Homo sapiens: one gene and its partner. The protein of the gene in region 2 interacts with the protein of the main gene of each other region in a biochemical or structural test. Each region holds a gene or a part of one and is shown on either strand. Other genes may lie near its edges.

What was found.
Region 1: the proteins of POLE (region 2) and CLSPN form a complex in vitro, tested with the Homo sapiens proteins (one study listed by BioGRID).

The regions. Positions count from the first base shown.
Region 1 is NC_000001.11:35,738,959-35,745,991, reverse strand, and holds part of CLSPN (claspin), read left to right. Parts: intron 1-429; coding exon 430-541; intron 542-2,415; exon of another isoform or gene 2,416-2,461; coding exon 2,462-2,537; exon of another isoform or gene 2,538-2,750; coding exon 2,751-2,851; intron 2,852-6,462; coding exon 6,463-6,627; intron 6,628-6,734; coding exon 6,735-6,856; intron 6,857-7,033.
Region 2 is NC_000012.12:132,642,343-132,649,342, reverse strand, and holds part of POLE (DNA polymerase epsilon catalytic subunit A), read left to right. Parts: coding exon 1-37; intron 38-270; coding exon 271-414; intron 415-5,316; exon of another isoform or gene 5,317-5,365; coding exon 5,366-5,506; intron 5,507-5,782; coding exon 5,783-5,936; intron 5,937-6,012; coding exon 6,013-6,119; intron 6,120-6,346; coding exon 6,347-6,523; intron 6,524-6,613; coding exon 6,614-6,837; intron 6,838-6,945; coding exon 6,946-7,000. UniProt on the Homo sapiens protein: Catalytic component of the DNA polymerase epsilon complex. Participates in chromosomal DNA replication.

The DNA of each region.
Region 1 (7,033 bases), on a different chromosome or scaffold from region 2:
CCTGGGCAACAGAGAGAGACTGTCTCAAAAAAAAAGTCTTGAAAAAAAAAAAGACTGCTTTAGCTTTGCCCATATATCATTTATGATTAATGTATGTACAAAGTTTAGAACAGTGTCTGATGTATAATAAATTTCATATAAATGTTAACTTACTTCCTGTTCCCTGCCCCCAATACACACAACTGCTAGATCGAACATAAGCTCTATGAGACCTGGGATAGTGGTTTGTTCATTACTGTATCCCTGGTGGCCTGGCACATATGGCACATAGTAAGCACTAAATAAGGATTTGTTGAATGAATAGATGGTAGGCTCTTCTTGGCAAGCTTACCTTAGAACTGTATCGAGCTGGCATGACTTTAGATGGCTGGGAAAAGAGTATAAAGCTATCATTCCTTGGTGACACATCTTTTCCTTGTTGTGATGTAGATGCCTCCACTCCAGCCTCATCAGAGTTAAATAAACAGGAGAAGGAGAGCAGCATGGGTGATCCAATGGAAGAAGCACTTGCTCTTTGCTCAGGCTCTTTTCCCACAGACAAGTAAGTCTCAGATTGCTGGGAATTTGGGAAGGCCTGGCCTTTTGATAAAATCAAAATAACTGATCATCTTAAGGGCTTTGCACCTTTTCTGAGAATCTTGCAGTGGATTTGAGTCTCATATATGCCTAGTAAGCAAATTATAATGCTTTGGTGGAGAACAGGGTAAAAAAGGCAAGAATATGAAAGCTATTTAATATCATTAATAGAGAAATGCCAATCAAAACCATAGTGAGACACCCATTAAGATGACTTTTATCAGAAAAACCCCAAGAGTGTTAGTGAGAATGTGGAGAAATTGGAAACCTTGTGTACTATTGGTGAGAATGTAAAATAGTGCAGCTGCCAGGGAAAGTATGATGGCTCCTCAAAAATTAAAAATAGAGGCCAGGCACGGTGGATCATCTGAGGTCAGGAGTTCGAGACCAGCCTGACCAACATGGTGAAACCCCGTCTCTACTAAATACAAAAAATTAGCTGGGCATGGTGGCGCATGCCTGTAATCCCAGCTACTTGGGAGGCTGAGGCAGGAGAATTGCTTGAACCCGGGAGGCAGAGGTTGTAGTGAGCCGAGATCATGCCATTGCACTCCAACCTGGGCAACAAGAACAAAACTCCGTCTCAAAATAAATAAATAAAAATAGAATGACCATATGATCCAGCAATTTCACTTCTTAGTCTGTACCCCAAAAAAGTGAAAGCAGGACTTGAACAGATATTTGCACCCCCATGTTCAAAGCAGCATTATTCACAGTAAGTAGTCAAAACATGAAAGCGACCTATGTTTATTGGCAAATGAATGGGTAAACAAAATGCGGTATATATGCAAAGGAATATTCAACTTAAAATGGAAATTCTGGCTGGGCATGGTGGCTCACACGTGTAATCCCAACACTTTGGGTGGCTGAGGTGGGCGCATCACTTGAGCTCAGGAGTTTGAGACCAGCCTGGATAATATGGCAAAACCCCATCCCTATAAAAAAAATACTAAAATTAGCTAGGCGTGTGCCGGCAGTACCAGCTATTCAGGGGGCTGAGGTGGGAGAATTGCTTGAGCCTGGGAGGTCAATGCTGCATTGAGCCATGATTGTGCCACTGCACTCTGGGCATCAGAGCAAGACCCTGTCTCAAAAAAAAAGAAGTTCTGACACTTGCTACAACATGGATGAACCTTAGAATGTTATGCTAAAAGAAATAAGCCAGTCACCAAAAGACAAATACTGTATGAGTCCACTTACATGAGATACTTAGAGTAGTCAAATGCATAGAGACAGAAGGTAGAATGGTGGTTGCCAGAGACTGAGGTTATAAGGAAATGGAGAGTGTAATGGGTATAGAGTTTTAGTTTTGCAAGCTGAAAAGAGTTCTGGAGATTGCTTAACAATATGAATGTACTTAACACTACAGAACTATAGAAAGATCGTTAAAAAGGCAAATTTTATATTATGTGTATTTTACCACAATTGAAAATTTAAAAAATTTTCTTCCTGTTTATTGAAGAGATTATTGGTGATAATAAAAGTTTTAAATTTGGCTGGGCGAGGTGGCTCATACCTATAATCCCAGTACTTTGGGAGCCCAAGGCAAGCAGATTGCTTGAATCCAGAAATTCAAGATGAACCTGGGCAACATGGTGAAATCTGTCTCTACAAAAATACAAAAATTAGCTGAACATGGTGGCTTGTATCTCTAGTCCCAGCTACTCAGGAGGCTGATGTGGGAGGATCACTTGAGCCCTGGAGGTGGAGGTTACAGTGAGCTGAGATGGTGCCACTGTATTCCAGGTGGTGTAAGAGACCAAGACTGTCTCAGAGAAAAAAAAAAAATTAACACACACAAAATTTTTTTTAATTCATAACTTGGCTGACTACTTGTAGTTTGCTTTCAACAACTTATTTATTGATTCATTGATTTACATTTTAGGGAAGAGGAAGACGAGGAGGAGGAATTTGGAGACTTTCGGCTTGTTTCAAATGATAATGAGTTTGATAGTGATGAGGTGAGTATGAAGGGAACAAAGTAATCATAACTGAGCTCCATGTATTGCTGCCCTCAAGTGTTTTTTTCCCCTCAGTTCTTGAGAATTCTAAGTTTGGCATCTTATCAGAAACAATTTCCTAGAATGAGGTATTTGGGCAGATGTTTATAAATCCTTTTTTCATTGAGGACGCATTTTATTCTGCTTAATTTGGATATGATGCTGATTTTGTAGGATGAACACAGTGACTCTGGTAATGATCTGGCACTGGAAGACCATGAAGATGATGATGAAGAAGAACTCCTGAAGCGATCTGAGAAGTTGAAAAGGCAAATGTACGTGTTATTAATATGTCCATTCCTTCAGGTGTATTTAAAATTTGGTCACTAGGCCAGGCATGGTGGCTTGCGCCTGTAATCCCATCATTTTGGGAGGCTGAAGCAGGCGGATCACCTGAGGTCAGGAGTTCAAGACCAGCCTGGTCTTGGTGACACAGGTCAAGAGATCGAGACCATCCTGACAAACATGGTGAAACCCTGTCTCTACTAAAAAATATAAAAATTAGCCAGATGTGATGACAGGTGCCTGTAGTCCCAGCTACTCAGGAAGCTGAGGCAGGGAGAATCGCTTGCACCCAGGAGGTGGAGGTTGCAGTGAGCCGAGATCGCACCACTGCATTTCAGCCTGGGTGACAGAGCGAGACTCTGTCTCAAAAAAAAAAAAAAAAAAAAAGTTGATCACTTAATATGTCCTGTGTGCTAATAACTGTGCTTTACAGGCATTAACATATTATCTTATGCCAGGCACAGTGGCTCACGCCTGTAATCCCAGCACTTTGGGAGGCCAAGGCAGGCATATTACTTGAGGTCAGGAGTTTGAGACCAGCGTGACCAACATGGTGAAACCCTCTCTACTAAAAATACAAAATACAAAATAAAATACAAAAATTAGCCAGGCATGGTTCTGGGCGCCTGTAGTGCCAGCTACTTGGGAGGCTGAGGCAGGAGAATTGCTTGAATATGGGAGGCGGAGGTTGCAGTGAGCCAAGATTGCCCCACTGCACTCCAGCCTGGGTGATAGAGCAAGACTCCATCTCAAAAAAATTATCTTATGAGTGGGTACTATTATTCTCCTCATTTTACAGTTGAAGGAACTGAGCCTCAGAAAGATTAAATTTACCCAAGATCACATAGCTAGAAGGCAGCAGAGGCTGGATTCAACTTAGATTAGGTGAAATCTCCCCTAACAGTCAGTTAATAGTTTGCCACTTTTTAACTTAAATCCTCCTGCCTCAGCTTCCCAAGTAGCTGGGACAACAGGCATGTGCCACCACACCTGGCTAATTCTTTCTATTTTTTGTAGAGATGGGGCCTTGCTTTGTTCCCAGGCTGGTCTTAAACTGTTGGCCTCAAGTGATCCTCCTGCCTCTGCTTCCCAAAGTCTGGGATTACAGGCATGAGCCACCAGGCCCAGCTTTTTTTTTTTTTTTTTTTTTTTTTTTTGAGACGGAGTCTCGCTCTGTCGCCCAGGCTGGAGGGCAGTGGCATGATCTCGGCTCACTGCAACCTCCGCCTCCCGGGTTCAAAGCGATTCTCCTGCTTCAGCCTCCTGAGTAGCTGGGAATATAGGCACGTGCCACCACACCCAGCTAATTTTTGTATATTTAGTAGAGACGGGGTTTCACCATGTTGGTCAGGATGGTCTCGATCTCTTGACCTCACGATCCACCCGCCTTGGCCTTCCAACATGCTGGGATTACAGGCGTGAGCCACCCCACCTGGCCGGCCCAACTCATTTTTTTGATATGCTGTTCTGGTCATGAAAGTAAAATATTTATTTTAGGATATTTAAAAGAATACAAACTGGGTGCAGTGGCCCACGCCTATAATCTCAGCACTTTGGGAAGCTGAGGCGGGTGGATCACCTGAGGTCAGGAGTTCGAGACCAGCCTGGCCAACATGGCGAGACCCCGTCTCTACTAAAAATACAAAATTAGCCAAGCGTGATGGCCAGTGCCTGTAATCCCAGCTACTCAGGAGGCAAAGCTGGAGAATCGCTTGAACCGGGAGGTGGAGGGTGCAGTGAGCTGAGATTGTGCCATTGCATTCCAGCCTGGGCGACGAGAGAAACTCCATTCTCCCCGACCCCCGCAAAAAAAGAATACAGAAAGATATAAATAAAAACTTATCCATGTCCACCATCCAGGATATAAATGAAAGTTAGTTTGTTCCCCTTAATCTTTTTTATGCATATATTTTTATATAGTTGAGATTTGTACAATCTTTCTATATGTATAATTTTGCATCTTTTTTTTTCTACTTAGCATATCCAGAAACATTTTCCTATGATGTTAAAAAAAGTTTTATAAAGATAATTCTAATAGGTATTTAATATTATATTGTATGTGAATGATTTGGAATTCACATATAGGACATCATATTGATCCCTATTAGATTTATATGGTTGCTTTTATCCCATCATTTCATTCTATTAAGATTCACTTTGGGTTCTAATTTATCACCTATCAAATTAACTCTCATACAGCTTTAGGTTATCCATAGATTTTTCTAAGGTAGTGGTTCTTCTCTGCAGAGCTCTTTGTTCAAATAAAATCTTTTAAAGAATGACAGATAAAAGTTGAACTGTTCAAAGATGGTAAGTGGGAAGTTTGGGAAACTTAGTGACTAGTGGCCTCTGAAGGAATTTTCCAGGAACTCTAGGATTTAGAACAACTTAGCTTTAAGAAAATACAGTATAGGCTGGGCGTGGTGGCTCATGCCTGTAATCCCAGCACTTTGGGAGGCTGAGATGGACAGATCCCCTGAGGTCAGGAGTTCAAGACCACCCTGGCCAACATGGTGAAACCCTATCTCTACTAAAAAAACAAAAATTAGCCAGGCATGGTGGCACGCACCTGTAATCCCAGCTACTCGGGAGGTTGAGGCATGAGAATCACTTGAACCCAGGAGGTGGAGGTTGCAGTGAGCCGAGATGGCATCTCTGCACTCCAGCCTAGGCGACAGAGCGACACTTCATCTCAAAAAAAAAAAAAAAGAGAAAATACAGTATAGGTCTTCGATAAAAATCAGTTTTCAGAAAGCCACCAAACTTCTGCCATTTTGGACCACATGGGACCAAGGTGACTTTGAATCCAGGGTGACACCAGATTTATTCTCCGGGGGAGCTGAAGTCATAAGAAGTAACTAGTCGTTTTGATTACCAGGAGCTCTGAGCCTTAGTCTTCCTTCTGATGTGGGGGTCAAGATTTGTTAGGCTGTAAGAAGATCCCAGTTTATTACCTTTCTACACCACACCATCTCTAGTTTGTCTCTTAAAGCTGGTGTGCTCAAATGCAAAATGAAATAGTTTGAACCTTCCAGCAGGTATTCTAATACATGTAAAAGAGATTAAGAGTTTTCTGGCTTTCAAATCACCCAATCTAAGTTGAATCCAGGCTCTGCTACCTTCTAGCTATGTGACCTTGGGTAAATGTAATCTTTCTGAGGCTCAATTCCCTCAACTGTAAAATGAAGAGAATAATAGTACCCATTCCTATGATAATATGTTAATGCCTGTAAAGCACAGTTATTAGCACACAAGACATATTAAGTGATCAACTTTTAAATACAGATGCTCCACATCTTACAATGGGACTATATCCTGATCAATCCATCATAAGTTGAAAATGCACTTTCATATTATCCAGATATAACTCCATCGTAAATCGAGAAGCATACTAAGTGCGTATCACATTCATGTCATCGTAAAGTTGAAAAATCATTAAGTCAAACCATCATAAGTGGAGACTATTACAAAAAAATTTAAATATTATCAAATGTATTATGTTTATTATTATTAGAAGTGACTCTGTTCTGCTTTTCTTTGCTTCCATATTCTGTGAGTATATTCATTGTTGCATTTTCTAATCCTCAAAATTGCTTTCTAGGAGGTTGAGGAAATACCTGGAGGATGAGGCAGAGGTGTCAGGAAGTGATGTGGGAAGCGAAGATGAGTATGATGGGGAAGAAATTGATGAATATGAAGAGGACGTAATTGATGAAGTACTTCCTTCTGATGAGGAACTGCAGAGTCAAATCAAGAAAATACACATGTCAGTATCCCAATAAGCCCTTCTGAGTAATAGGGTACATCTTAAGACAAGCCCTGTAACCAGCCAGAATGGTCCTTGTTTTGAACACCTTATTTCTCCTGTTGCAGGAAAACTATGTTGGATGATGATAAGCGACAGCTACGTTTATACCAAGAGAGGTACCTTGCTGATGGGGATCTGCACAGCGATGGTCCTGGGCGAATGAGGAAGTTTCGATGGAAAAACATAGGTATCTTGGTTGTTGTCTTTAAAAGCAATCAGTTACGGGCTGAGCATGGTGGCTCACGCCTGTAATCCCAACACTTTGGGAGGCAGAGGCAGGTGGATCACAAGGTCAGGAGTTCAGGACCAGCCTGAACAACATGGTGAAACCCCGTCCCTACTAAAAGTTCAAAAATTAGCAGGC
Region 2 (7,000 bases):
CCGCAGCATCCTGGACCTTCCGTGGCAGATTGTGCAGGTATAGACCTTGATCCAAGGGGAGGGCAGTGGCTCTGCTGATGGCCCAGGGAGGGGGTGTCCAGCTGGGCCCTGAGGTCTGGGATGGGAGGGTTAGAGTGGGCCTGGAGTTTCCTGCCCATCGTAGGGAGGCCTAAGGCCCTGTGCTGGGAGCTGCAAGCTACCTGGAAGGTGGCCCCGTCTGTGGGTTCCAGTGTGTCCTGTGATGTGCTGTATGTCCGTGTGGCCTTTCAGATCAGCGAGACCAGCCAGGCCGGCCTGTTCAGGCTGTGGGCGCTCGTTGGCAGTGACTTGCACTGCATCAGGCTGAGCATCCCCCGTGTGTTCTACGTGAACCAGCGAGTCGCTAAAGCGGAGGAGGGTGCTTCGTATCGCAAGGTAGGGAGGAGCTGGTGCTGCCTCTGCAGTCATCTGGGCAGCCTGAGGTGGCTTTCCCATGATCTAGCCTGGCCTCCAGCCTCCATCTCCTCAGTACCTTATGGGGATGTTCTAGGAATTCCTCAAAACAACGTGTGTGAGCGCTGAGCACCGAGCCTGGGGCAGAGCGAGTGCCGGGAATGGAGCTGCTGGTGTCCTTGTCACGATGAGCTTGTCTGCCCGCGAGGTCCATGTTGCGGGGACAAACCAAGTGGCATTGGTTAGAGATTGTGAACTCTGTCTCCGTAGGCTCTTTGGTTGTTAACAGCTTTATTGGGATGTAAAGTTACGCCATCCAACTCACCCATTTAAAGTGCAGAATTCAATGACTTTTAGTGGCATGACTATTGCCAGTCAATAGTGACATTTTCTTTTTTTTTCTTTTTTTTAATTTTACTTTGATTTCTGGGATCCATGTGCAGAAAGTGCAGGTTTGTTACATAAGTAAGCACATGCCATGGTGGTTTGCTGCACCCATCACCCCGTCACCTGGGCATTAGGCCCCACATGCATTAGCTGTTTATCCTGATATTCCCCCTCCCCTCACCCCCCCATTCGGATATTTTCATCACTCCAAAAAGAAACCTGGCATCCCTTACCTGTCACCATCCTCCCCCAGCCCTCAGTAGCCACTGATCCACTTCCTGTCTCTGGGTTTGCCTGTTTGGGCATTTGATGTAAATGGAACCCTACAGTAGGTGGGTCTTTGTGCTGGGCTTCTTCCACCTGCAGAAACTGCGAGGGTTTTCATGTGGCCATGAGTGCGCTGAGGCTCTTAGATGGCATCTCCACCCGAACTCCCCGTTGTTAATGTGTCGGCTCAGCACATTTCTTGACTGGATGCTGTGAATCACGTAAGAAGTGACACGTAGTTGGGGAGATGAGGTGTGCATATTTGTACCTACACAAGGAGGTTTTCTGGAGAAGGTGAAACTCGATTCCAGCCAGGTGATTCAGTAGAATGTGCATATAGAAAGTAGACGCAGAGCCAGGTGTGGTGGTTCACACCTGTAATCCCCGCACTTTGGGAGACCGAGGTGGGCGGATAACAAGAGGAAAGCGGACGCAGAGGCATCGAGACCACAGAGAACAGGTGGGACTGTGGGGTTTCTACACCTTCCTTTCGATGCGTGGTGCTGTGGTGCTGTGGCCGTGTGGAAGTGCCCTAACTTTTGGGATGTTTCCCTTTATGACTATCAGCTCATCTCGAGGGAGGTTCTGGCGCTGTGTGAATATTCTGTCCTCAACGTTTGACTGGATGGTGTCAGCATCCATGTCTCGTGGGGTCCATGGGGCTCCAGGATGATATCTTCAGATTCTGTTCCTCTGTGTGTATTAGCTGTTTCCTTTATAACGAAGAGCTTTGTGCAGATCAGGTAGAAATGAACTCTATTCCTTAAAAAGCAAGATACGAGAGGGATAATACGCTTTTTTTTTTTTTAAGCAAGATAAATGCTTTTTCCCTTTAAATTATTTTTAATTTTCAAGGTAGGGCATGGCAAAATGGGTTTATTCCTTTCATTTTTCCTCTCTTTTTAAAGTATTACTATGGATTAGAGGATTTTTGTTTAACTTTTTTGTTTCTGTTTTTGAGAAGGTCTCTCACTCCATCACCCAGGCTGGAGTGCAGTGGCATGATCTTGCCTCACTGCAGCCTTGTACTCTTGGGCTCAAGCAATCCTCCTGCCTCAGTGTTTAATGTTTTAACATCAACCGTAGCCAAATCCCGCCCAACACACACACGTTAGGTATGTTAAGGTACACGGTAGGCCCTCACTTTATGTTGTTGATAGGTCCTTAGAAACTGCAATTTTAAGTGAAATGACTAAGTAAGATGATGTATAATGAAACAGATTTTTTTTCTTCTCAGAAACTATAATGAAACTGTGTTGGCCAGGCGCAGTGCTGCATATCTGTAATCCCAGCAATTTGGGAGGCTGAGGCTGGTGGATTGCTTGAGCTCAGGCATTCGAGACCAGCCTGGGCAACGTGGCAAAACCCCTTCTCTACAGAGTATTTTTTAAATTTATTTATTTTTATTTGTTTGTTTGTTTGTTTTGAGATGGAGTTTCTCTCCTGTTGCCCGGCTGGAGTCCAGTGGCGCATCTCGGCTCACCGCAACCTCCGCCTCCCGGGTTCAAGAAATTCTCCTGCCTCAGCCTCCCAAGTAGCTGGGATTACAGGCACGCACCACCACGCCCGGCTAATTTTGTATTTTTTAGTAGAGATGGGGTTTCTCTGTGTTGGTTAGGCTGGTCTCGAACTCCTGACCTCAGGTAATCCATCCACCTCGGCCTCCCAAAGTGCTGGGATTACAGGTTGAACCATGGCGCCCGGCCCCAGAATTTTTTTTTTTTTTTTTTTAAAGGAAGAAAGAATGTTGAACAAAATGATGTTATTTGAGGACCTGCTATACATTACTTCACTTAACCATCACAGTTTCCAGGAATCCATTGATGTTAAGTGAGGACTTACTGTAATTTACATATAGTTAAGTGCAGATTTTTAAATGTGCAGTTGATTGGGTTTTTGGACACATGACTATGCCTGTGTCACCCACACCCCCACCCAGGTGCAGAACGTTTCCATCACCCGGGAGGGTGCTCTTGTCCCCCTGTGCAACCTTCTGCTGGCCTGATTTCTGTATTTCTGTAACTGTGTGCATGTGACTTTCTAGAACTTCATATTAATGGAACCAGACAGTAGACTCTTTGGTGGTCAATATCTTCTTGAGACTCAAATTATCCCAAATTGGGCTGGCCAGATCCCTTCAAGCTGGCACCTGAGTCCTTTTGACATGCCCTGTTGGTCTTTGAAAACTTCCTTGCTTTTTGGCCACTAAGAGAGGCCAGGCTCACCTTGAACTTCCAGACGTGGAATTAGCTGTTCCTCTAAAGAGCCTGAGCCTCGTTGAGAGGTTATGTTGAGAAACCAAGCTTAGAGCTCAAGGGGTATCATTTCATCTAGATTCCTTCAGTGAACAGCCAGGAAATATATACATTTTAAAAAGTGCAATTACACTAATTGTTCCAGTTCATATTTACCAGAACATAATTTTTCATTTCTTTGATTTTGTGTGTGTGTGTGTGGGTGTGTGTGTGTGTCGGTCTAATTTCATGTTACTGGAAAAATCTAACCCTACTGGTTCTCTTCTCGCTTGAGAATTATTCAGATTTTCCTGGTTGTTGTTACGCCAAATAACGCTTTATTGCAACCTGGACATTTTACATATTTGAGACTTTGGGTATTTTTAAAAATCCTTTAGCGTGTCAGGTTTTTTTGTTTGTTTGTTTTAGCAACAACCAACACGGTTAATTCCAGTGCCCAAGCTCTTCCTTGCCTCTTTGTGCAAAGCTTCCAATGTCAGCTCAGCCTCCAGAGCCTCTGCTGCGTTGTTTTGGGTCACCTGTGCAAGTGCAGCTCGTAGTGAGCCTGGGACTTGTGCTGCTGGTTCATGCATGAAGCTAGGGTGCTCCTCTCCAGGATTCCCCCAGCCCCCCACACACGAAGCTAGGGTGCCCCCTCTCCAGCTCTCCTCTCCAGGATTCCCCCAGCCCTCCACACAGGGAGCTAGGGTACCCCTCTCCAGCTCGCCTCTCCAGAATTCCCCCAGCCCTCCACACAGGGAGCTAGGGTGCCCCCTCTTCAGCTCTCCCAGACCCCCCAGGACCCCACACAGGAAGCTAGGGTGCACCCTCTCCAGCTCTCCCAGACCCCCCAGGACCCCACACAGGAAGCTAGGGTGCCCCCTCTCCAGCTCTCCCAGACCCCCCCAGGACCCCACACAGGGAGCTAGGGTGCCCCTCTCCAGCTCTCCCAGACCCCCCCAGGACCCCACACAGGAAGCTAGGGTGCCCCCTCTCCAGCTTTCCCAGGCCCCCCCAGGACCCCATTCACGAAGCTAGGGTGCCCCTCTCCAGCTCTCCCAGACCCCCCCAGGACCCCACACAGGAAGCTAGGGTGCCCCTCTCCAGCTCTCCCAGACCCCCCCAGGACCCCACACAGGGAGCTAGGGTGCCCCCTCTCCAGCTCTCCCAGACCCCCCCAGGACCCCACACAGGGAGCTAGGGTGCCCCTCTCCAGCTCTCCCAGACCCCCCCAGGACCCCACACAGGGAGCTAGGGTGCCCCCTCTCCAGCTCTCCCAGACCCCTCCAGGACCCCATTCACGAAGCTAGGGTGCCCCTCTCCAGCTCTCCCAGAGCCCCCCAGGACCCCACACACACACTCTGGCTCCCCCAGGGGCTCTCTTTCCGTTTCTCTGACTAGGAAAATGTGATTTCTCTCAGTTTTTGCCATCTACACCCTCAGGTTAAACCCATGAGAGAATGGAGGAAGATGAACTGGGAACCTCCCCAGATCAGTGTTGACTGCTGTATTCTGACAGCTCTTGTCTATTCTCAGAGGCTGCAGGTTGCTTTTCAAAATTGCGTCCAGAGGCCAGGCATAGTGGCTCACACCTGCAGTTCCAGCGATTTGGGAGGATCACTTGAGTCCAGGAGTTTGAGACCAGCCTGGGCCTCATAGTGAGACCTCCTTTCTACAAAAAAAAAAAAAAAAAAAAAAAGCCATCCGTGGTGGTGTGTTCCTTGTCCCAGCTACTCAGGAGGCTGAGGCTGGAGGACCACTTGAGCCCAGGAGTTGGAGGCTGCAGTGAGCTGTGATCACACTGCTGCACTCCAGCCTGGGCAACAGACTAAGACCCTGTCTGTAAAAAATAAATAAATAACATAAAAATTACATCCAGAGTTTTTAGTTGTAATCATTGAGAGAGGTGGACTGTGGCGTGGTGGGTGTACCCCGTCGCTAGGGGCACCAGAAGTCTAGGACTCCGAATAGCGTGTGCTTTGTGTGTGTACCACAGACATTACCACTTACGCCCAGTGACGAGATCATCGTCGTATTCTCGCCAGGTAAATCGGGTCCTTCCTCGCTCCAACATGGTCTACAATCTCTATGAGTATTCAGTGCCAGAGGACATGTACCAGGAACACATCAACGAGATCAACGCTGAGCTGTCAGCGCCAGACATCGAGGGCGTATATGAGACTCAGGTGACTCCCCAGCCACCCTCGACTGAACTGGGGGAGGCTCCAGCAGGGTGGTATGGAGGAAAGAAACCCGCCCAGGGTGTGGGCTGGGGAACAGCAGCGACAGTGGACTCGTTCCCACAGGTGAGGTGAATGTCAGCAGTGTGTCTGCCAAAAGTGGCCTTTGGGCAGTGGGCCGGGCAGCTGCAGGGGCACAGCCACATCCCGGGCAGAAGTCACGTGGGCAGCCAGAGCCCCCACCATCCAGCCCTTGCCGGCCTGTCTGCCCGATTCTTCCAGGTTCCGTTACTGTTCCGGGCCCTGGTGCACCTGGGCTGTGTGTGTGTGGTCAATAAACAGCTGGTGAGGCACCTTTCAGGCTGGGAAGCAGAGACCTTTGCTCTTGAGCACCTGGAGATGCGCTCTCTGGCCCAGTTCAGCTACCTGGAACCAGGTATGGCCTGCACCAGCCGCCCATCATGTGCCTGCCTCCCACACATCTGGGGTGACGGTCTTGTTTCCTTCTCCAGGGAGTATCCGCCATATCTACCTGTACCACCACGCACAGGCCCACAAAGCGCTCTTCGGGATCTTCATCCCCTCACAGCGCAGGGCATCCGTCTTTGTGCTGGACACTGTGAGTCCTGGGCCCTCCATGGCAGCACATTGGCTGGGGCAGGGTTTGGGGAAGGAGGACATCTCCCAGGGTGCCCAGGCCCTCCAGGTCTTGTCCTCAAGGGCCTTTGCCCATGAGTGCTTGTCGTGATTGAATTGGCAGTGCCGTGGCAGTGGTGGAGTCTGCCCCAGGGCTGCCCCCACTTCCTCCTGCGCAGGGGGAGGCTGACGTGGCCTGCGTTGGTCTAGGTGCGCAGCAACCAGATGCCCAGCCTTGGCGCCCTGTACTCAGCAGAGCACGGCCTCCTCCTGGAGAAGGTGGGCCCTGAGCTCCTGCCACCCCCCAAACACACCTTCGAAGTTCGGGCAGAAACTGACCTGAAGACCATCTGCAGAGCCATCCAGCGATTCCTGCTCGCCTACAAGGTGAGAGTGGTTGGGGTCTTGCTGTGTGAGCCCCATCTTCTTTGAGGCTGGGTCCACCCAGGTCTTTTCTTCCATTTTGCCTTGACCCAGGAGGAGCGCCGGGGGCCCACACTCATCGCTGTTCAGTCCAGCTGGGAGCTGAAGAGGCTGGCCAGTGAAATTCCTGTCTTGGAGGAATTCCCACTGGTGCCTATCTGTGTGGCTGACAAGATCAACTATGGGGTCCTGGACTGGCAGCGCCATGGAGCCCGGCGCATGATCCGTCACTACCTCAACCTGGACACCTGCCTGTCGCAGGCCTTCGAGATGAGCAGGTGAGCACAGTACTGTCGTTGTGGGCCAGTGGTCCCCAGGCAGAGCCGGCCTCGGTGGTCTCTGTGACCCGGCGATGTGCCCCGGTGCTGACCTGTGCCCTGGTGCAGGTACTTTCACATTCCCATTGGGAACCTACCAGAGGACATCTCCACATTCGGCTCC